Regions from separate parts of the Homo sapiens genome. Here region 2 is linked to region 1. The links come from fine-mapping of genetic effects on gene expression. Tissue or cell type: fibroblasts. Region 1 holds a variant in brackets; the other region holds the start of a gene. All regions are shown on one strand. Distances are from middle to middle.

Region 1 (8,340 bases):
CAAAAAGCCTTTGGGGAAGGCTTTTGCATTTCTTGATAAAAGGGACTTAAGCAGCAGGTTCTGTTCTTCACTCCTTTCTTGCCTTGTACCATTTTCAGTTGTTCATTGTAGAAATAGAAATAAGCAAAAAAAGAAAAGAAAGAAATGATAAAACCAACAAAACTCATAAAAATTACACATGATCGGGCTCCAAAAATTAGGGAGAGGGAAACCCCTGCCTAATGAAACTAATAAATGTTTAAAACACTGTAAAAAATTACCCATGATCCCACCACACAGAGGTAACGTCTTACTAACCTTAATATTATGCTATATCATATTGGGGGAAGGCATGTTTTCTATGCATAAATACACATGCAACAGGGAGAAGAACTTAATTCAGAAGCTAGCAGCAGATTGAACCATTGTTCTGAGAGGATGGAAGGATGCTTCCTAAGGAAAAAATTGGCTGTCTTGTTCAGGAAAACATATTTTTTTTTTTTATTTGAGATGAAGTTTTGCTCTTATTGCCCAGACTGGAGTGCAATGGCTCAAATCTCGGCTCACTGCAACCTTTGCCTCCCGAGTTCATGCGATTCTCCTGCCTCAGCCTCCCCAGTAGCTGGGATTATAGGCGCATGCCACCACACCCAGCCAATTTTTGTATTTTTAATAGAGACAGGCGTTTACCATGTTGGCCAGGCTGATCTGGAACTCCTGACCTCAGGTGGCCTGCCCGCCTCAGTCTCCCAAAGTGCTGGGATTATAGGCATAAGCCACCACACCCGGCCTAGGAAAACATCTTAATAGTTTTGGGGGCTGTGAAATATAGGTCTAGAAGACGAGGAAAAAAGAACTCAGTGGCTGTGCACAATAAAATACCATTTGTCCCACGGAGATTCAGGTAGGATGACGTTTAGGATCCATGGGCACTTGGAGAATGGAGAGGTGGAGGAGAACGATTTGGTAAGGGACGGCAGGCACAATGTCAGCTGACCCAGAAGGCACCAGTGAGAGGCTGGTGGACTGGGCTTAGGAACTTTAAAATATCAAATGTTCTATTTTCAATGACTATCTATACAGTGCTGGGCTTGCTGTCACTATGCTGTAATTGTTTTTTGCTGTCTTCAACCTTCCCAACAGCTCTGTCTCACAAAATGGCCTTGTACTGGTGATGCTTTAGGGATTGGGGAAGGATCTGCTTGAGCCGCGCTTGCAGGAGGCCGTAGACAGTGAAAGTGCTGGCTTCTGTCTGCCTCTTTTCTGGTAATAGCACCTTCACATTTGGGGAACTACTTCTACTTCATGTGGTCCTGATAGAGCCGTTAATCACAGTTCCCCAGATTTCTCCCCCCATGACAGTTAGACCCAGGCTGGCCAATGACAGCGTCATAACCCTTGGCATACATGAACTGAACCAAGTATGGGCTCTCGACCTCCCAGGTTCAAGGGATCCTCCTACCTTAACTTCTCTAGTAGCTTGGGCTACAGGCATGCACCACCATACCTGGCTAATTTTTTTTTTTTCTTGAGATGGGATCTCACTATGTTGCCTAGGCTGGGCCAAAGTCCTTTGCCAGAATTGTTGCAATTGGACCTGGAGAGATGGTTCTACATTGTCACCTTTCATGGAGAGTTGTGAAGATGGAGGGCTGGGGCTGCAGGTAGCCTTTGACTCGGACTCATGGAGAAAGCCATTCTGTAAAGGGAGGGAATGAAGCCAGGCAGATGGGAATGAGAAAGTCCTGAGGCCTTGGTTCCCACTCTTCCCTGGGCTACCCCAGCCTTCCTGGCTCTGTGAACTAGTGAATCCCTTTCTCAGTGTATCTGTCATTTGTAATAAAAAAGAGCCCTTACTAATGGGAGAGCAAATAAAGGAAGAGAGAAGTGCATGGAGGGAGGAATCTCAGCCCCTAGTGTAATTAAGAATATAGGGGAACCAGAGATTCATAGTAAGAGGTAACCAGAAGTAGCACTAGATTTTTCTCAGCCAATGGGAACTTGAGAAAAATTATTTTTACATACTAAAAGAAAAGATAACCCCTGACAAGTGGAGAATTTATGGACCTCAAGGGGTTACATAATTTTTAAAACTATATACAAATGTATGGCAGATAAGTTACCCTCTTTTTTTTTTTTTTTTTAAGAGAAAAGGTCTCAGCTGGGCATGGTGGTTCACACCTGTAATCCCAGAACTGTGGGAGGCTGAGGTGGGCAGATCGCTTGAGCCCAGGACTTTGAGACCAGCCTGGGCAATAGTGAGACCTCATCTCTATTTCAAAATTTAAAATTAAAAAACAAATAGAGACATAATCTTGCTTTGTCACCCAGGCTACATAGAATATGGTGGTGCAATCATAGCTCACTGCAGCCTTGATCTCCCTGGATCAAGGGATCCTCCTGCCTTAGCCTTCAGAGTAGCTGGGATTACAGGCACCTGCCACCACACGTGGCTATTTTTTTTCTTTCTTGACAGCCCAAGCTGGTCACGAACTTCTGGGCTCAAGTAATCTTTCTGCCTCATCTCCCAGTGTGCTGGGATTACAGGTGTGAGCCACTGCACCTGGCCTGTTACCTTCTTGGAGACTTTTTGCTACTCTCTCTCAACTCTGGTCCTCATGTGTAAACTTTGTTCCACATCTTCTATTGTCCACTGAAAGGTCCTTTAAAAACCTCATATTGGGAGGCCAAGGCGGGCGGATCACGAGGTCAGGAGATCGAGACCATCCTGGCTAACACGGTGAAACCCCGTCTCTACTAAAAATACAAAAAAAAATAGCCAGGCGTGATGGTGGGCGCCTGTAGTCCCAGCTACTCGGGAGGCTAAGGCAGGAGAATGGCGTGAACCCGGAAGGCGGAGCTTGCAGTGAGCCGAGATTGCGCCACTGCACTCCAGCCTGGGCCACAGAGCGAGACTCCGTCTCAAAAAAAAAAAAAAAAAAAAAAAAAAACCTCATATCAACTGTTCAAATGTATCCTTGTCTCAACTCAATGTCAGAGTGACTAATAACAATTGTGGTAATAATACAAATAATTTGAAATTTCACATTCTTTTCCCATGATGGACGTGCTAAGAGGTAGTGAAGTGGACACAAGTCAGGCAAGGATCCGGGACATCAGCCACAGCTTATATTGGCAAGGCAGGAGATAAGATTTTTGGTTTTATGAAACCTGGCATTATGAGCCTGGTGAGCTCTATAGAAACAATTATAGAAACAGAGGAGCAAAGGTTCCTAGAGACCCTCTCCTTTACCTTCACCAAGACAATTGTATCATTACAGATAGTGAGTGCTGCTGCATGAGGAATGTGCTCCTGTAAACAAATATCAATGTGGCTTCTTAGAAGAGTCTGCCAACTAAACTTAGAAAAACATAAGAAACGTTTATTTGAATCTCAACTTATATAACTCATCCAACTACTAAATGCAATGACAAACTGACTCATGGTTCATATGAATCAGCCCTAGC[A/G]TTCCAGATTAGTAATGCAGAAGGCGTTTCTTTCTTCTTTCTTTCTTCTTCCAGATAGAAGCTCTCTCTTCCCACTCCTGTAAAAAAAAAAAAAAAAAAAAAAAAAAAAAAAGCTCTTTAGATAGAAACTTGGCATTCTCTGGGAGTGAAGAAGTCAAGTGTCCTGGGATAGTGACCCTAAGAGGAAGAATCCTCAGGGGCACAGGAACTGTAATCTAGAGAAATAGTTTCATTTCATGTATTCATGTATGAAAAGGAGACTACATATGTGTATTTATGTAGCTAGAAGGGCAGGTTAAGGGAGAGAATTCTGATTGTCCCCTAGCTCTTTTTCCCTTCTTTCAGTAGTTTTATCTGGGAGATGGCTGCGTGTCTAAAGTCTACGTTTTCTCACTTACTTTATAGTCAGGTTTTTAGCCAGCCCCCAAGATGCCTCCAACAATCTCTGCCTCCTGGTATTCACACCTCTGCATAGTCCCTGCCCACATTGTGCCACAGAATTGGTACATTGTGCCACAGAATTGACTAACACAATTAAGCAGAAATACTTCTAGGTCACTTCTGAGATTAGGTTCTAAAGGACACTAAGCTTTCTCTCTATCTCTCTCTCTCTCTCTCTCTCTCTCTCTCTTCCCCCTGGGATTACTTGCTCTGGGAGAAGCATGTTGAGCAGCTCTACATGTTGAGAAGCTCATGTGGCAAAGAACAGAGGCCTCCTGACAACAGCCAGTGAGGAGGTGAGCTCTGCCAACAACCAAGTAAGTAAGCTTAGAAGTACATCCTCCAGACCCTGTTGAGCCTTCAGATAACTGCAGCGCCTTAGCCACTACCACTCAGCTAAGCTGCTCCTGAAATTATTTGATATCATAAATGTTTGTTGTTTTAATCTGCTAAGCTTTGGGATAATTCGTTATGCAGCAATAGATAACTAGAACATTACGTGTGGCCAAGAAAGTAATATGTGCACTTCAGGGTCATGCCTCTAAAAGGAATAAGTATGCTTTCTTGTTTCTCCTTCCCACTTCCTAGAATGCAAGCATAGTAATGAGCCATCTTACTGTCGAAGCTGCATGGGTGACAGCAACACCTTAGGGTTGGAGGACAACCATGCAGAAAGAGCCTGAGTCTCTGCATTATTCAGGAAATACTAGGTTTAACTGCACTAACAAAAAACCTCCAGTCTTAGTGTTTTCAAAGCAGTGGTTTATTTCCAACTCCCTCAAATCTGCTGCAGCTCTGGGCTTCTAGACTTGCAGTTTAGCAGTGACTACGTTCTTCTTCTCAAGACAATGGCCTCTATCAGGAGGGCCCTCTACACAGCTACAGGTCTCTCCAGCTTTTGGTAACATCTTCTTCCCCTTGACCCTCCCTTTGACCCAAGCCTAGAGGTGGTAACTGTTGTTAGCCCCAATGCTTCACTATCCCTTGTTGGTGTCCCTTAATATTCTTCATACCTTTGTAGAGTTCCTTCATTAAACTGCCTTCAATTACCTCTGCCATCTATTTTCTGTCAATATCCTGACCTATCCAATCCTTCTTCCTCAAATGATAGCTACTAGTCAAAACAGCCAATAACATAAGAAATGGAAAGACATGTAAGTCCCAAAGGATGATCTTTTAGATTATAAGCAGAGCGAACATGCACTAGCACCCAAGTCTCACAGTGCATAGAAAAGATATCCCCTTTGTTGTCATCATCAAGATAGTGAGAAGCAGTGGCATCCAAAATATCTGTGAATCTAGGCCAAATCATTCCAGTAAAAAGCTATTTGACCTACTTATTCCAAAATTAAAGCTTATTCCAAAATATTTTCAATATTCAGTTCAAGTATTATTGACATACCAATTAATTCCTCAGCTGGGCTTCCACTGAGTTCAGGCAGAAAGTTCTAAATTAGGGCATGAAGTTTGCCAGGTTTCTGTTTTGAACAAGTGTATTAGTCCATTCTCACACTGCTACAAAGGTACTACCTGAGACTGGGTAATTTATAAGGAAAAGAGGTTTAATTGACTCACAATTCCACATGGCTAAGGAGGCCTCAGGAAACTTACAGTCATGGCGGAAGGCAAAGGGGAAGCAAAGACGTTCTTTACATTGCGGCAGATAAGACAGAGCTAGCAAGAGCAGGGAAAACTGCCTTACCAAACCATCAGATTCATGAGAACTCACTCACTATCATGAGAACAGCATGGGGGAAACCAATTCCATGGTCCAATCACTTCCCACCTAATTCCTCCCTCAACACCTGGGGATTACAACTCAAGATGAGGTTCGAGAGGGGACACAAGGTTCGGGGAGGCCTCCAAAAATCTCACCAGCCACAAAGTATAGCTCACAGCCCAACTCATTGCATGGTGGGGGAAAAAAAACAAAAAAACAAAAGAGGAGGAAAGAGAGAGAGGAGAGAGGGAGGCTGACGAGGTTCACAGAAAGAAAGCTGACTCTTCAAATGAGGAGACGCCTCTTCTACATTAAAAGCAAACAAACAAACAGCCTCATTTGGAAGTCCTCCCTGAGGGGCCACAGGTAGGGGACCTAGAGAAAGATAACCTCATCCAGAATAGAGAATGCGACTTTGCTCCAAACACATCAGCTTCCAACAGGGAATCTGCAGTGGCCAAAGGGGCCGCCAACAAGATAATGGAATATGATTGTTGTCCACAAAGATGCCTAGGACAGAAATTCCTGTAGGATCAACAACACAGCTAGGAAGAAAATGAAAAAGTCAGATTCTTCATCCATTTATTGAAATATTCACCAAGGCTGGGTATGGTGGCTCATGCCTATAATCCCAGCACTTTGGGAGGCTGAGGCAGATGGATATCCAGAGCTCAGGGGTTGGAGACCAGCCTGGGAAACAGGGAGAAACCCCATCTCTACCAAAAATGCAAAAAAAAAAAAAATTTAGCTGGGTGTGGCAGTGCACACCTGTGGTCTCAGCTACTTGGGAGGCTAAGGTGGGAAGATCACTTGAGCCCAGGGGGCAGATGTTGCAGTGAGTCGAGCTCGTGCCACTACACTCTAACCTGGGTGACTGAGTGAGACCCCACCTCAAAAAAAGAAAACAAAGGAAAGAAAGAAAGACAGAGCAAGAAAGAGAGAAAGAAAGAAAAGAGAAAGAAAGAAAGAAAGAAAGAAAGAAAGAAAGAAAGAAGGAAAGAAAGAAAAAAAAAAGAAAATTCACCCATTCTAATCCACAACAAACAATGAAAACAAAATTCAAAATCATGCATACTTGTTAAGATACTTTTTGCTACAAGTGACTGAATACTCAACTGAAAGTGGCATATCAGGTTTTTTGTTTTTCTGTAGGTCATTCCAGGTTCAGTTAATTCAACAGCCTGACTAGGCCAGAGCTCTCAATCATCCTTTCTGGGATTCTCTTCTCTTTCTCCTCATGGTCCCAAGATGATTGCTCCAGTTCCAAGCATCACATCCTACATGACATCATCCAAACACAGGAAAGGTCCTGGCTTTATTTTCAGGCATCTCTCATTTTATTTTATCACAGAGGAAAAGCCTTTTCCCAGAAGCTCCTTAGCAGTCTTCCCTTACCTCTCAGTGTCTGGAGTTGGGCCACATGCCCACTCCATGCCTATAATTGGTAAAGACAATCAGCACTTGGAACAGACTGGCACATAGCAGGAGCTTATTAAATATTTGTTGAATGAATGAAAGGTGGATTGGATTACCATGGTTGGCTTAGACCAATTATAGCCCATTTCCTAGAGCCCATTTTCCTAGAACACATTGTTGACTAATGGCTGAAGAAAACTGGCATTTTCTTATCAAGGAAGAAGGAAGGAACGGCTATTGGACAGTCAATAGTGTATGCCACATTATGCTATTTCTTAAAGCAGGGAACCAGAGCAACCCATTAAAAGGGCTTATTGTTTTCTAATGGTTACCTTGTAAAAAAGTGTTTTTGGATTTAAACAAATTGTTCATGCAAGGGGTATCTCATTAGTGAACAAGTTACACTATTCTAAAGAGAAATGGACTTTTTTTTTCTGCTCCAGCTTAGACATCAGTTCGTACAGATATTCTCCCTGCCTAAACCCCATCTGGGTTGGGTATCCTTCTTCTATGTTATCAGGCACTCTACCTCCCCATGTTACAGCAGTTACCACACTGGATTATATCCACTTATTTATTCTGTTTCCTGCAGTACAGGCTGTTACATGTTCACCAAATCATGTTTTCTTTTCTTGTGTGCTACCTTTCTCAATCCCCTTTGCAGTTAGGTGTGGCCATGTGACTGAGTCTGGTCAATGGAATGTGAGTAAAGTAGTGTATACCACTTTCAAGCTTGGCCATAAAAACTACCTGTGCAATCTCCTGGCTTTCTCTTTCTTAATCTGCTGGCTTAATGGAGAAGACTTTGTGGACATAAAAAAATATGGAAGGAGGCTGGGATCCTGAAGGACTGCATGGAACAGAATACCTGTCTTCTCAGCAATCCACACTATTCTAAGATGAACTTGGTGAAGAATGCATTTTTTATTGTGCTAAGCCACTGAGAATTGAGTATTTATGTGTTTTTGTTATGGTCGTTATCCAACTCTAACGAATACAGTTCCTCAGAATAAAAACTTACTGAAAGTAGAAATCTCTGTCTTGTTCACCATGCTTTCTTGCCCTACCTAGCACAGTGTCTGTCACATAATAGGCACTTAAGACACTTTTAAAAAATGAAATAAACGTAATTCTCCCAACTTGTAGCGAGTATCTACTAAATGCCAAAATAGCTTGAACTTTGTAATGCCATTTAAAAAACCTAAAATATTTCTCCCCAAAATTTTGAGGAGTTAAGTCAAAGACACTGAAAACACAGAGGAACACTCTGCCCCAGCCTCCATTTGCCTGGTGGCAAACTCTTCCTTCCTTACTGG
Region 2 (8,340 bases), 41 kb before region 1:
CTGTGTTTCTTAAGTAGAAGAACAAACGCAACAGGGGCCACACCAGATGTGACAACCCTACCCAGGCACAGACGCTGTTGATGGGATGCAACATCTAACTCGCGGTCATCAACTCACCTAACACTCCATAGGACCACAAATGAATTAGAAAGATGGTAGAATCCACACCTAGAATCTAGTATATACAGTAGGCCAGGTGCAGTGGCTCATGCCTGTAATCCCAGCACTTTGGGAGGCCAAGGGGGGCGGATCATTTAAGGCCAGGGGTTCAAGGCCAGCCTGACCAACATAATGAAACCTTGTTCCCATTAAAAATACTATATATATATTATATTATATATTATATTATATGTTATATATTATATTATATATTATATATTATATTATTATATTATATATTAATATATTAATATTAATATATATTAACATTAATATATAGTAATATATAATATATTGATATAATATATAATACAAATAATATATTATATAATATATAATACAAATAATATATTATATAATATATAATACATCATATAATATATAATACATTATATATAATACATTATAATACATTATATATAATACAATATAATACATTATATATAATACATTATATATAACATATATGTGTGTGTGAGTGTGTGTGTATATATATATGTATATATATATAGAAAACTATTTTAGCTGGACATGCTGGTGGAGGTTGCAGTGAGCCCAGATCGCACCACTGCACTCCAGCCTGGGTGACAGAGCGAGTCTCTGTCTCAAAAAAAGAATCTAGTATATACAGTGAACCGAAAGGATGACTTAATAATTACCATGCCTACAACAAACTACAAAGAATACAGAGTGTGATTATGTCATAGCTTCCACTCCCTTCTCAGCAGGAAACCTGAGAAGTCCTTTGCCAGGAGGAGCCAAGGGAAATGTCTCTATCCTCAGTCGGTTGGCATCCTTTTCTTTGTCCAGGTTCTCTGCCATTGGCTGATCCTCTTCTGCTTCCCACACTGTTCTACGTGCCAGCCAGGTTGGGCCAGGAAGGGCTCTCTGGGAGTTCGAACTGCCACAGCATCTGCAAAATTCTCGGCCTCTCTGCTTGCAAGTTCACACCTTGGGGGCAGAATTCTCAGCAAGCTCGCCTCTATCCTCTGGCTACCCTCTTCCTCATTTGTTTCTGTATAGGTCAGATTTGGGCCCTTGGGAGGCTTAGAATCTTCACTGTGAATTTACTGAAATGTCCTTGGTAGTTTTGTGTTCCCCAAGAAATGGCTTTTCTCTCTTTGCATAATTTCTCAGGTCCGCATGCTCCCTATTCATATTTTGTGTGGGTTCCACAAAGATGACCAAGGATAGGAAAATCCAGCTTCTTCTTGTAACTATTAGCAGTAGCTACCCATTTATGGAGCGCCTACTATGTTCTGGGTATTATGTAAGTGCTTTACATATCTTTAGTCCTTACAACGAACTTGTGAGATAATTCTCATCAGTCCCATATTACAGATGAGGAAACAGAGAGAAGTTATATAAGTTACCCTTGATCAAATTGGTGGTAAGCAGAAGTAGTGGGACCTCATGCAAGTCTGCAGGATTGAGAAGCCCACACTCTTTCCTTTCCACCATTTGTCCAGTCACAGTAAACACTTACTGAAGCCCTTTCCTCCCCCAGGCATTGTTCCTCTCTTGCGGAGGAACATCCCACGACCCCATTCTTCCTCCTAATTCTCTTGATTTGAGCCATTGAAGAAAAGAGTTCCCAAAACCTGTGGCAAGGAAAAGGTTTAGAACAGCAAATAGAAGAAAAATAACACTTACTGTGGGTGGTAATTTGAAGTTTGTTAATCACCAGGGGAAAAAGAACTATGTGAGAATTACCATCTCAGCCATATGTCTCTAGTTTACATAACCCAGGCACTAGCTGGAGCTCTCAGGCAGAGGCAGAGGCAAACATGTGGGATCCTGGAATTCCACTGAAATATAATAGACAACAGGAGGAGCAGGAAAATGAGTCATGTTTTTATAATTAGTTGTGTTATTGGACCCAACTTCTCTAAGAAATCAACAGCATCATCCAATCCCATCTGGCACAGGAGAAGACAAGAGGCTGACAGATTGTGTGATAGTCCCTGGAAATCGGTGGTGATATAAAGACCTAGGATCTAAACCTGCAGGAAAAAAATTAGTGGCCAGCTACCTCCCTTATTTGCAGGCTGTTGAAATACTCTTAATTTTACTGAGAGCCAAAGCAAACTTATCTCACTGGGAAAAAAAAAAAAAAAAGCATAGAAAGAGAGAACTGATATAGTAAAACCCAATTGCCATGGCTGGACTGGTGCCCAAGCATGAAAGAAGTTTAGGTTATTGTATTTTAAAGGATCTCTTAGATTGGCAAAACTGTGGGTAGCACATTTCTGCTTCTTCACTAATAAATGAATCTTGATTTTGTTCAGATGATCAGAGCAATTTGTCTGGAGAAGGTGGATTCTTCCCTTAGACCCAGGAGAGGAACCATGATCAGCCTGATCCCTTTCCTCTTTGAAAATGATGGATTTAGCCAATGTGTTGGCTGACACAACCCAGTGCTCAGCAAGGAGACATAAGTGAAAGACTCCTAGTGATTTCTGAAAAGGTTTTCCTCTCTAACAAGGAAAGACACTTAGGAGAAAGAAAGCCTGGGACACTTTTTACCTGTCTTTGGATATTTTGTTTAAAGATATGATGAATGGAGCTACTGTAGCCATCTTACCACCATGAGGAGAGACAATGCTGTCACACTGAGAGCTACAAAATGAAAGATGGAAAAAGCTAGAGGTCTTGGTTTCATCACTGCACCCCCAATCAACCGGAACCATATACCTGCTACCTGCAGAGTCAAGTGATGTAAAAACTGCTTCATGGTTTCAATCACTTTTTCTTTAATCTCCATGATACACCGGATAAAGAGAAACAGCTTGAAGTTGACACATTATGCAAGAGAAAAAGAAATGTCTCATCTGAACCAGGATGAGACTCTGTTGATGCCAGGACCTCTATCTGTTGGGCTGTACTGCCTCCACGGGAATTTAGAAACTGAACAGATGGCACATATTTATTGAGCACCTACCAAGTGCCAGGCACTGTTCTGGATCACAGGAGTAAACAATGCAGAAAGGTCATTGTTGTCATGGAAATCACATTCTGGAAGACAGATGATAAACAAAAACACAATTAAGGATAGGTGAAAACACTCTTAGGCAACTTTCTAAGTATTGGTTCAAGCCAGTCCTGAGTGAAACCCTGACTCTGGAATCAGATAGAACTGGATTCAAATTCCACCCCCACCATTCACTGTGACCTTGGGAAAGTTATTTAGTCTTTCTGAGTATCAGTTTCCTCTTCTGTAAAATAACGATAATAAAAAAAACTAACTCAGCCGGGCATGGTGGCTCACGGCTGTAATCCCAGCACTTTGGGAGGCTGAGGCAGGAGGATCCCTTGAGCCCAGGAGTTTGAGACCAGCCTGGGCAACATGGTGTAATACTGTCTTTACAAAAAATTAGCCACTTCTGGTGGTGTGTGCCTGTGGTCCCAGCTACTTGGGAGGCTGAGGTGGGAGAATCACCTCAGCCCGGGAGGTCAAGGCTGCAGTGAGCCAAGATCGTGTCACTGCACTCCAGCCTGAGTGAAAAACAAAAAACAATACAACCTCATAGGGTTATTGTATTACATATTAAATAAGCAGACAAACTCTCTGTACAGTCCTTACATGGAGCCTGACACACAGTCAGTCTTACTAGATTATGGATCATCACCATTGTCATCATCATAATAATTTGTGCTGTCATAGTAATAATTTGTGCAACAACAATAATAATAATAATGCTGTGGGTATCAAATGATAAACAAGACATAGACCCTGCCCATTCAAAAAATCGTGGCAGCAAGAATCCAGATTTGGCCATAGAATGGTCAGAAGTTAGGCATTGAATTAGGCAGGAAACAAAAGAATTCCTCTGGTAACCAAGGTTGGGTTAACCTGGGCCCCCTGTCTCTACTCTTTCCCACACATGTTTTATAACCGTCACCCCCTTTTCCAAGAGGGAAAGAGGTATTCTGAATGAGCGCTGCTCTTCTTTCACATATGGCTACTGTTCCCAAGAGACTCAAGTGGGCTTTCTCTTTCTCTGCTGAAGTGAATAATATAGGGTGTGGCTCTCTGGATGGCACTTACCGGTTTGTGCTACAAACCAGCAAATACACACAGATAATCCCACAGATGATCTCACCAGACCTTGTCTCCCTTCCCTCATTCCCTCAAAATCATACCCACCTAATAATGTTTAGTGCACTGCAATTGAGTATTAGCTCCCGTATCTAGCTAATAAAATACGTAAACATCCAACAGCCGGGTCCTCACACCCACACACATACCCTCGCCTTTAGAAACATTTCCACGGATTGTCACACGAGCCCCTAAACTCTCTGTCACACTCTGCATGCATCTTCCCACAGACTTGCTCACACACTGGCTTTTTATTCGCAAGCCCATGGGGAATCTTTCACCTCTTAGACAGGAATTTCATTAACGAAGGGGAGGGGATGGTAAGAGGAAAGTACAGATGCAGGGGAAATAAATGAGAATCGTTTTTGAGGGAGACCTAAAACTGTATCATCCTAGCCCGAATCTCTCCCTTTTAACTGTTCTTTATGTGTACATTCTGTGCCCAAAAGAAAACAACCTTTCATTAATTGGGCAATTGTCCAGGCTCTTAGCTTGGCATCCAGCTCTCAGAGCTGTGAAATCAACCGCACCAGATCTACGCTTTGAAATGAGGCAACATCTAACTGGAAACTCGCTCAAAGTAAGGAAGTGGATGAGAAGACTCAGGGTCCCTTTTCTCTTCCCCGTCTTCTCTCAGCCACATCTCTCTTATCCTATCTTGGTGAAGAAGCTTGCTTGGCTAGGAGAGAGGTCAGGGACGAGAAGATAGTGACGAGAAAGTTCCATGAGACTCTCAGAAGTCCCAGCCTGAACATCAAACCTGAATAACCAGGAGAGACGTAACCTCGGCATACTTTCAGTGGTTTACCTCCTGCCCACGCTGCAGGTTTTTCAGGTCCTTGCTCGAGTGTGTGCTCATAGGCGTAAATAAACGTGCTATCAGCAGCCTGCGTCAGCCAGCCCAGCTATTTAAGCAGGCTGGCATCAGCAAACACAGCTTCCAAACCCAGGGCTTGCGCTTGCCTTTGCCTCTTCCACGTAAGTACCTTTCAAAGGTCTGCCTTTTATGCAGAGGAATGAGTTTGTGCAGGAACTAGACCAAAATGCTATCGTTACCGTATTTGCTCATCTGTTGGAAAACGGTAGAGGTGAAAGGGAGAATAGGAATGACAAGCTTACCCCCAAGCAGAAGCTAGGAAATGCTGCTGGGTGTAAGACATCAGTCCCTTACAAACAAAACTGCATGGGGTCGAGGGGAATTTGGAGGAAGGGGAGTTGGTGTTGGTCTTTTGGCCAAGCAGGTGAGATGTTTTTCTTACTCGCTTCTATTTTGGAAAGATAACTTTGAAACCAGCATTTGTCAGATGCCTATGATTTTCTCATTTAGAAGCAGATTATTGTTATTCTACATCCCAGACTTTTATCTAAAATCAGACATAATATCGTTTTAAAATATGTTTTGTGTTTGACAAGGGGAAGTGAGGGAGCTGTCTCTGGATGGAGAAGTGGCTTGATTTTGAATTTGCAGTTTATTGTTACTTCTGGTTCTCATAATACTTATTTATAACAACAAAAACAGTGATTTTTTTTTTTTGAGATGAAAAGGAATCCCAGGCTCTGGGGTTTAGAGAAAGTATAGGTTTGTGATATGTGAGTGGCATCCAAGTATTCAGGGTAAACTGTTAAGTAAAGTGGAATAAGAATCATTGAATAAAAAGGTACAATCTATCACATAGTTCAGATAAGAAGCTCTTAAAGAGAAAAGGAATGCAAACAGTTCCCATGAAGTGGCACTGCTACTGGACAGGGCCCTGTAGTGTGTTTAGTTAAGTAAGGTTAAGTATAACCAGGGCAGGCAGAGAACAAAACGAAGGTGCTGGGGAGGTGGGAAGGGAGGAGAAGGGAGGAGCAGATAGTAAAGGATTTATAATTAAACAACAGATTCATGAAAAGCAGATAGGAATAGAGCAGGGCATTAATTCCATAGTCTATCCCTTTGTATCAAGAATCTGGTGAAAGCCAAGGACCTTTCTCAGGTATTCATTCCTCGCTTCCTGAGCCTCCCCTTCCACCCCACACCCCAACCCACACCTTGACTCTCACTTTCTGGACTCCTAGAAGTCCACGGACCTAAATGAAGCTCATATGCTTATTATTATTTTTTTTTAACTGGGCTGAAGCTGCCGACTGAGGAACCTCTCCAGAAGTGGTGGCGAGTTAAAAACCTTCAACGTGGCAGGCACTTCTTAGCCACCAAACTGAAGCTTGGTTTTAAGTTCATGAAGGTCTTATGTCAATCAAGCAAATAATGATTAAGGGCTATATCTGAGAAAAGATAAGTTGAAGGCCAAGAGGAAGAGAAAAGAAAAAATGGATCTTGTTCTCAAAGAGCTTGAAATCTAAAGTCCAGGGAGATAATTAGATGTTATGTCCATGCACAAAATAGGATGTGTTGAGTGATTACATTTGTATAAAATGATAGAAAATGCAAACTAATCTATAGCAAAAAGAAAGTGGCTGGGTGCGGTGGCCCACGCCTGTAATCCCAGCACTTTGGGAGGCCGAGGTGAGCGGATCACTTGAGGTCAGGAGTTTGAGACCAGCCTGGCCAATATAGTGAAACCCCGTCTCTACTAAAAATACAAAAATTAGGCGGGCTTGGTGGTGGGCACCTGTAATCCCAGCTACTCGGGAGGCTGAGACAGGATAATTGCTTGAACCCGGGAGGCGGAGGTTGCAGTGAGCTGAGATTGTACCACTGCGCTCCAGCCTGGGCGACAGAGCAAGATTCTGTCTTAAGAAAAAAAAAAAAAAGAAAGAAAGAAGATCCATGGTTACTTGGGAAGGTAGGGGCAGGAGAAAAAATGTTTGGGGGGACTCCCAAGGTACACAGGAAACTTTTGAGGGTGATGGATATGTTCATTATTGTGACTGTGACCATTTCTTATATGGGAAGATTTATCAAATTGTGTACTTTAAACATTCAGTATTATAGCTGATTACTCCCAACAAACAATACTTTAACCACATTATTTTTATTTTTATTTTTTTGAGATAGGATCTCACTCTGTCACCCAGGCTGGAGTGCAGTAGCACGATCTCGGCTCACTGCAGCCTCTGCCTCCCAGGCTCAAGCAATCCTCCCACCTCAGCCTCCCAAGTAGCTGGGAACACAGACTTGTGCCACCACACCCAGCTGTAGAGATGGGGTTTTGCTATGTTGCCCAGGCTAGTCCCAAACTCCTGAGCTCAAGCGATCTGCCTGCCTTGGCCTCCCAAAGTGCTGGGATTACAGGTGTGAGCCACTGTGCCTAACCAACAATATAATTTTTAAATAAGTAAAAGCATTTCTAAAAATCAGCCTATGTAACATGCTGAACATAAAAGATGAGTATTTATGGAGAAAAAAATAAATTCAGTAAAGCACAGAGACCAGACAGTAAGGATCATAGACTTTTATAGAACTGGGAGGGTCCCTGGAGATAATCTAACCTAGTGGTTGTGGGGCCTGGAGAACTTAAAAAAGAAAAAAAAAATCAGTGACTGGGGCAGGGCATGGTGGCTCATGCCTGTAACCCCAGCACTTTGAGAGGCTGAGGCGGGTGGATCACCTAAGGTCAGGAGTTCGAGACCAGCTTGACCAACATGGTGAAACCTCATCTTTACTAAAATACAAAAATTATTCTGGGCATTGTGGTGAGCGCCTGTAATCCCAGCTACTTGGGAGGCTGAGGCAGGAAAATCGCTTGAATCTGGGAGGCAGAGGTTGCAGTGAGCGGAGATCGTGCCACTGCACTCCTGCCTGGGTGGCAGAGCAAGACTCCGTCTCAAAAAAAAAAAAAAAAAAAAAAAAATCAGTGACTAGGCCCCACCCTGGACCAATTAAATCAGAATCCCCAGGTGTGCAGCCCTGGGATTGGTTTTTAAAGTTCCCCAGGTGAGTCTAATGTGCAGCTAGGGATGAAAACCAGTGAAATCAAAACCATTCACTTGACAGATAAGGACAGTAAGGGCCAAAGAGAGGATGGGGATGGCCCCATGCCACCTGACCACCAAGTCCGAGAGTAGGATGAGGCTTGGGAGGCTCAGGGAACACAGCAACAGAGGCTCAAAGGTAAAGAAAGAGGCTGCTTCTGGACACT

What was found.
Region 2: it holds the start of HOPX, and the variant in region 1 is fine-mapped to the expression of HOPX in fibroblasts (GTEx, PIP 0.99).

What each region holds. Positions count from the first base shown.
Region 1 is chr4:56,636,683-56,645,022 of GRCh38, reverse strand. No RefSeq gene overlaps it. Among named protein-coding and RNA genes, the nearest start is that of HOPX, 40 kb to the left of the region's middle. RefSeq lists an enhancer at 3,073-4,272. The variant A/G (reference allele first, on the strand shown) is at 3,448.
Region 2 is chr4:56,678,151-56,686,490 of GRCh38, reverse strand. HOPX (HOP homeobox) reads left to right here and starts at 5,195. Exons shown (of 4, transcript NM_032495.6): 1 at 5,195-5,236. LOC105377666 (a long non-coding RNA gene) reads right to left here and starts at 3,258. Exons shown (of 3, transcript XR_941078.3): 1 at 3,101-3,258; 2 at 1,813-1,967. RefSeq lists a silencer at 5,148-5,197.